2 linked regions of the Homo sapiens genome follow. The protein of the gene in region 2 purifies or fractionates together with the protein of the main gene of each other region. This does not show direct contact. Each region holds a gene or a part of one and is shown on either strand. Other genes may lie near its edges. The genes, in order: KCNIP1 and OR14J1.

What was found.
Region 1: the proteins of OR14J1 (region 2) and KCNIP1 purify together in Homo sapiens (affinity purification with mass spectrometry; one large-scale study listed by BioGRID and IntAct). This does not show direct contact.

What each region holds. Positions count from the first base shown.
Region 1 is NC_000005.10:170,510,233-170,514,057, reverse strand, and holds part of KCNIP1 (A-type potassium channel modulatory protein KCNIP1), read right to left. Parts: intron 1-3,825. UniProt on the Homo sapiens protein: Regulatory subunit of Kv4/D (Shal)-type voltage-gated rapidly inactivating A-type potassium channels. Regulates channel density, inactivation kinetics and rate of recovery from inactivation in a calcium-dependent and isoform-specific manner.
Region 2 is NC_000006.12:29,299,911-29,303,835, reverse strand, and holds the start of OR14J1 (olfactory receptor 14J1), read right to left. Parts: upstream 2,136-3,925; 5' UTR 2,049-2,135; intron 1-2,048. UniProt on the Homo sapiens protein: Odorant receptor.

The sequences.
Region 1 (3,825 bases), on a different chromosome or scaffold from region 2:
CAGGTGGTGGAGTGCCTCGCAATCAGATCCACTTCAAGTCCTTGCTTACTAATCACTAGCCAATCAAGAACCTCCCTGCATCTACGTTTCCTACTCTGCAAAGTGAGAATAATAATGAAACCATTACAGGACTCCTACAAAAATAAAAAGATTACTTTTTTGGGGGATCCCCACCAACAGAGAGGTCCTACTAGACCCCCTGGAAAAGGCATTTGACTTTCATTCCCCAGGCCCTACCTGTGTCTGTTTAGACTCCTACTTTAGTCACATTTTCTGGCTTCAAATCCCACACAAAGGCTCTGTATGTAAACCAGGCTGCCATCCTGCTCTGGGATTCTGAACATTATCAGTGAAATCCATTATGCAGGCAAGTCTCTAGTTGCAGTCCACATGGCTCTGTCCTGCACCCTGTTCTGGCCCATGTTCTTAGAAGCAACTTAGATAAAGACCTAGAATGCCTCCTTATCATTTCTTCAGGTAGCAGAAAACTTGGAGGTACAGCTAAGATGATGGCTGGTGGAGTCAAGATTCAGGATCTCTGTTGGCTGGAATAACATTTAAAATGAGTAAACTAAAACTTAATGGGCGTACATCATCCTGCACTTCTTTGTTGTTAAAAAGAAAGAGAGAGAAAGAAAAACAGACAAGCTTGATTGCAGAAATGCAAATCTGGAAATCTGACTTCTTAACAATTTATATGAGATGACCAGGGCTGGGGTTCGGATGTCAGGCCTAACACTTGAGCTGTGTGATTGTGGGCAAACCACTCACCTTCTCTGGATTCTATTTTCTTATTTGTAAAATGAGGCTTAAATCAGAAGTCTTAGCAAAAGCCTCTTCTGGCTTGATATATAATTTTGTGTAATACAATACACATAGTTCCATAATCTGTACTTTAGGCCAGTATTCCTCAGACTCCAGTGGGCATATAAACCATCTGGTGATCTTGTTAAAATGCAGGTTCTGACTGGGTAGGTCTCACTGAGTTGAGGTTTTTTTTTTTTTTCCAAGATGGAGTCTCGCTCTGTCGCCCAGGCTGGAGTGCAGTGGCGCGATCTCGGCTCACTGCAAGCTCCACCTCCTGGGTTCACGCCATTCTCCTGCCTCAACCTCCCGAGTAGCTGGGACTACACGCGCCCGCCACCACGCCTGGCTAATTTTTTTGTATTTTTAGTAGAGACGGGGTTTCACCGTGTTAGCCGGGATGGTCTCTATCTCCTGACCTCATGATCCGCCAGCCTCGGCCTCCCAAAGTGCTGGGATTACAGGCGTGAGCCACCGCGCCTGGCCGGGACTCTGTATTTCTAACAAGCTCCCAACTGATGCTGAGGCTGTTGGTTGGAGGAGCACACTTTAAGTGGAGTAGACCCAGATAGTAACAATTTACCTTTAGCGCATTCTGAGTGCTGACCGCTGCATCTTACATGCATGACTGCATTTAATCCTCATAACAACCTGGGAGGGAATTATCAACAATACTTTCATTTTCTAGATTATGTAGAGATGAAAGTTCACAGAAGCGAGGTAACCTGCTCAATGTCACACAGCTAATGAGTTGCAGAGCCAGGATTTGAATTCTAGGTCTGCCTAACCAGGAGTGTATGCTCATAACAACCGTATAACATACGCAGGTGATTTGGGCCAACATGTGGCTAAGGAGAGAAAGGAGATGAGCAGTAAGGTACTTGCAAATGTACTAGCAAGTTCTTGTGTTTTTTTCTTAGCAGTGATAACCACTTGTAAACCGACTGATCTCCTTGCCCACCTGGACCGTGTGAAAACTCTGATCCTGGTCCCTGGTTCTGAACGTTTGCAATTCTAACATACTTGGAAGATATTTAAACACTCTATCTTCACTGACAGGCAATGATGGCTATAACAAAGAGAGAAAATTTTAGTTCACATAAATGATTAGAGCAGAGGAGAGATGTTTAATCCTATTAATGAATTTGCTAATTGGCCTTCTGCCCCCAATCATTTCATATTCAGGCTTCCACAGTGTCAGATGAAATGGAAACAGATCTAGGGGGAGGCGGGGTTGGGATGGGGCTAAAAGCATTTTGCTCAGGGCCTGCACGTAGCTCAGTTGTTCCGTGTGGCTAATGAGGTGCTTCAGTCTATCCTTGAATGCCTTCTCCCCAACATCCATGCACCCGTTTTGACTGTTTTTCTACTCAGGTCCCTAAGGTTCCAGAGGCAAAGCCAGGAGGAGAGGAGGTTAGTATGGCAGTTAGAAGCTCAGGGTCTGGGATCAACCAGAACCAGGCTCTGCGATTCCCAAGCTCTATGACCCTTAGTAAGGCACTTCCCTTTTTAGAGCCTCAGGTTCCTCAACTGCAAAATGAGAACTGTAATAGCATCTTGTCCTCCAGGGTTGGGGTTAATAAAATAACACAGGAAAGAGCCGAGCAAGGTGCCTGGCACTGGGTGGAGGCCAGAGTCATTTGAGCTAGTATTATTATCCTTCCTGGCGGGTGACCTGCATTTTCATACCTCACTGTTGGGAATTGCTTTTACCATCTAAAGTTGACAGCTTCCCTTAGGAATCACCAGAGAAACTGCTTAGAATGCCAGTGACCATGGATATGGTGGCTCGGGATCTCAGAGGGCTGGAATCAGAGGCCACAGCTCAAAGGGATGGGGAGATTACCAAGGGTAACACCGTCATCATCCAAGTGGAGCAAGGCAGAAGGAAGGGGCCTGTCCTGAGATGGGACAAAAGGCAGCAGCAAAGCCAGCACTGCCAACTCACCTGGTGTGCAGCACCATGTTCAATTCCTTCTTGGCCCTCACGTGGCCCTATAGGGAGACACTGTCATTGTCCCCATTTTTTAATTTTTATTTTTTTTGAGACGGAGTCTCGCTCTGTCATCCAGGCTGGAGTGCAATGGTGCAGTCTTGGCTCACTGCAACCTCCGTCTCCTCGGTTCAAGCGATTCTCCTGCCTCAGCCTCCTGAGTGACTGGGATTACAGGAGCATGCCACCATGCCCGGCTAATTTTTGTATTTTTAGTAGAGATGGGGTTTCACCATATTGGCCAGGCTGGTCTTGAACTCCTGACCTCGTGATCTGTCCACCTTGACCTTCCAAACTGCTGGGATTACAGATGTGAGCCACCATACCTGGCCCACTGTCCCCATTTTATAGAAGAGGAAACTGAGGCCTGGAAAGGCTCAGCTATGAACCAATGAAAGGGAGTTCAATCCCAAGACTCTTATTTTAACGCGGTGCTCATAGCCATAATGCAATCCTACTTCTAGCTTCCTGATTTGAGTGGAATGTGGTTCCTACTTCCCCCCACCGCACCAATGAGGCTTTTAGTCTGGCCTTGAATAACAAGATTTAATCCAAAGTACTACTCCCATGGCTGGGGTACGGGAAGCTAGCAATATCCCAACTGACTACCACTACTTCCAGAAGGTGACCTATTTAAAATACTACCCGGAGGAAGGGGAAGCATTTAAAGAGATGTTTCTCTGAAGGCCCTAGGACTCTTAGGCTCTCTCTCTCTTTTCTAAAAACTGTTCCTTCCCTGCCTGATGAATGGGAACATCAGCTCCACGGCCATTATGCAGAATTTTGCAGAGCTTCTCCCCAGGAGCAGACCTGGATTCCTCATCTGCACCGCCGCATTCTCACACCGCTCAGAGCCATCAAGAACGCACACTCTGGCCCATCCATCCTTACCTCCATGCCGCCAGCATCCATCAAGCCTGGATGCAGTGTCAGGCCTGACAGAGGCCCTGGGATAAGACTCAGTGCCTGAAAGCTAGTCAGAGAGATAAATGTGTAAACCCATAATGACAACCTCATAGTGTGTTCAG
Region 2 (3,925 bases):
TCTAAAAATTCTAATAATGTTGATTTACTGAGATTACTCTTAATGAACCAGATTGTTTCACTATGCTCTGTTGATAGATGATAGATTAGAGATAGATAGATGATAGATAGATAGATAGATAGATAGATAGATAGATAGATAGATAGAGATAATCTTAAGACTCATCCATTTTAAAGAAAAAGAAAAGTCTTCACTCCACACTTAGGACTTACTTATAATGTCCCTTCTCTTTACAGCCATGCTTTATGAGCAGAATAGGGTATCATTCTGTGCCCTGGCACATTTGGTTCAATTCTTGAACCATGTTAATCATTCTTGCTTCATGAGTCCTCACAAACAGCTCCAGCAAATCCACAAATAACTATCACAACGGTAAATTCAATGCACTCTTTCTATTTTGTTTTTATTTTAAATTTTGTTTCTCAAATATATGACACTATTATACAGTTCTTTCTTCTAAAACAGCTGACTTCCATTGGCTCTATGCCACTTAGTTCTGGTTTTCTATTTCCTCTCTGAATATTTTTTCTTAGTCTCGTTATCTGGGTCTTCTTTTAACATTTATTGAAATTTGATGGTTTCCAAAAATTTGTCCTGACACTTTCTTTCTGTACTTTTGTTTACTCAAAAATATTCCTGTGCCTTTTAAAGAAGACAGATTAACTATTTTCCTACACAATAGAAAATAATAGTCTGCTGTTTCGAGCACTACCATAGGTCTTCTGGGTTGCAGGTCCCCTGGGTTGCAGGTCCTCATATCCTGCTTCACGGTTGGCACATCACTGTCCCTGAATGGGTCTTTCCCATAAGGACTCATCTCTTCTCCCAGACATCTCCCTGTCACTGTGACCTATTTCAAAGAATGGCACAACTTTGCTTTAATCTGTATATCCAATCAAACACCAAAATTTTATTTGCTTACTATCTGTTGTAGTTATTACATCTTGCTGTCACACGTACAGATTAGTTCAAACCTTCATTATCTCTGGCAATATTTTATTCTTCAGTTTTATGTATTTCTAATCCAACTTCAATGCTGTTGCCAGGACAAATGGTGATGCAGATCACATCTTGTAACATTAATTTAGCTTTTAGCTCTTTATTGACTTGATTATGCAATGATGCCCAAAAAGCTTAGGATGGCAAACAATATCTTTACAATGCTTCCTGACTGCCATTCCAGTATTATCTATCATTGTGACTTCTCTAACCCCATGCCAATCTCCATGTCTAATAATGGCGACTGACTTAATTACTCTTAATAAATCAATCAGGTTGTATCACCATGCTGTGTTTCTTTTCTTAAATCACACTATCCCTCCTGTCTGGAAGTCCTCCCATTAGAATTGCCCCTCATGGCTGAGCACGGTTGCTCACACCTGTAATCCCAGCACTTTGGGAGGCTGAGGTGGGCAGATCACCTGAGGTCAGGAGTTCAAAACCAGCCTGGCCAAAATGGCGAAACCCCATCTCTACTAAAAATACAAAAATTAGCCGGGCACGGTGGTGGGCACCTGTAATCCCAGCTACTAGGGAGGCTGAGGCAGGAGAATTGTTTGAACCCAGGAGGCGGAGGTTACAGTGAGCCAAGGTCGCGCCACTGCACTCCAGCCTGGGTGACAGAGCGAGACTCGTCTCAAAAAAAAAAAAAAAAAAGAAAAAAAAAAGAAAAAAAATCTCCCCTCATTTGTTTGGCAAATACTTAACTATCTTTTAACACAGCTACATTGTCTCTTTCCATTTATAATTCACCTGAGTTTAACTGTCGACCCAAGAAGAATTGTCACTCTTTGGAGCCCAGATTGCATTCATTTAAGATTCCTTATAATTTATACTAACTTTTTTATGCTTTATATACTTTTTTATAATTTATACTACCTTATTTGCATAGATATCGCAGCTTATTTAAACTGTTCTTAGTTAAGGAGTGAGAAATTATGTATCTTATTTAGAGTTATAACTTTGAAGACTCGCATAGTCGCTGGCACTAAGCAGGTGCTACATAAATGTTGGATAAATTCCATAAAATTTGAAGAAGTTTTACTCACCAGAGTGGATCTCTCGGTAGAAACAAATCTCAATTGATCCTGAGACTGAGCATCTTTGTTCTAGAATCAAGCTGGTGTTTCAGTCAGTGAAATTTCCATGTAAGGAAAGGACTGAAACGCTTTTATATAGGACCAAACAGGATGTAACTGCCCAGGGACATTTAAATTTCCTATTAACTAAGGGGTATTTGAAATGAAGCCAGTGCTGTCCAGGCACTGGGGACAAAAATCCTGTGCAGGAAAGTTGGTGTTTCAGATAAAAACTATGAGTTCAAAGCAGGGGATTTCATGGACCTCTCCCTCAGGGAATTGCCTCAGTGGGAAGTAGTTAATTATTATCTTGGTTTAGCTAACTCTTGTAGTCGATGCATTTCAGGTTAAAAAAATGAATATTATACATAACTCGTTTTCTGTAACACAGGTTCACAGGTTTTTCTAGTAAAAAGGATTTTTTTCATTAATTAACAGTTTCATTTTAACTGGTCACCAATAAAATCATGCATGATTGCACTGGCCTTATGTAAAAAAAAAAAGGAATACTTAGTAATTATTTACATAAACCCATACATAATAGTAGAATCAAAGAATCTCAGAATAAAACCATGACTTAGAGAGCTAAACTTTCTTCAAACATGGTGTCTTTTCTAAAATTACTCTGAAACTGATAATCCAGCCCTCATTTTAACAATCCCCCAGATGAATAATTTTTACTCAAAAGTGAATGAATTCCATTCTTAAATATGTGTGATTATGGAAAAGGCATTTTTTTAAATTATACTTTAAATTTTAGGATACATGTGCACAACGTGCAGGTTTGTTACATATGTATACATGTGCCATGTTGGTGTGCTGCACCCATTAACTAGTCATTTAGCATTAGGTATATCTCCTAATGCTATCCCTCCCCACTCCCCCCACCCCACAACAGGCCCCAGAGTGTGATGTTCCCCTTCCTGTGTCCATGTGATCTCATTGTTCAATTCCCACCTATGAGTGAGAACATGCGATGTTTGGGTTTTTGTCCTTTGTGATAGTTTGCTGAGAATGATGGTTTCCAGCTTCATCCATGTCCCTACAAAGGACATGAACTCATCATTTTTTTATGGCTGCATAGTATTCCATGGTGTATATGTGCCACATTTTCTTAATCCAGTCTATCATTGTTGGACATTTGGGTTGGTTCCAACTCTTTGCTATTGTGAATAGCGCCACAATAAACATATGTGTGCATGTGTCTTTCTAGCAGCATGATTTATAATCCTTTGGGTATATACCCAGTAATGGGATGGCTGGGTCAAATGGTATTTCTAGTTCTAGATCCCTGAGGAGTTGCCACACTGACTTCCACAATGGTTGAACTAGTTTACAGTCCCACCAACAGTGTAAAAGTGTTCCTGTTTCTCCATATCCTCTCCAGCACCTGTTATTTCCTGACTTTTTAATGATTGCCATTCTAACTGGTGTGAGATGGTATCTCATTGTGGTTTTGATTTGCATTTCTCTGATGGCCAGTGATGATGAGCATTTTTTCATGTGTTTTTTGGCTCCATAAATGTCTTCTTTTGAGAAGTGTCTGTTCATATCCTTTGCCCACTTTTTGATGGGGTTGTTTTTTTCTTGTAAATTTGTTTGAGTTCATTGTAGATTCTGGATATTAGCCCTTTGTCAGATGAGTAGGTTGCAAAAATTTTCTCCCATTCTGTAGGTTGCCTGTTCACTCTGATGGTGGTTTCTTTTGCTGTGCAGAAGCTCTTTAGTTTAATTAGATTCCATTTATCAATTTTGGCTTTTGTTGCCATTGCTTTTGGTGTTTTAGACATGAAGTCCTTGCCCATGCCTATGTCCTGAATGGTATTGCCTAGGTTTTGTTCTAGGGT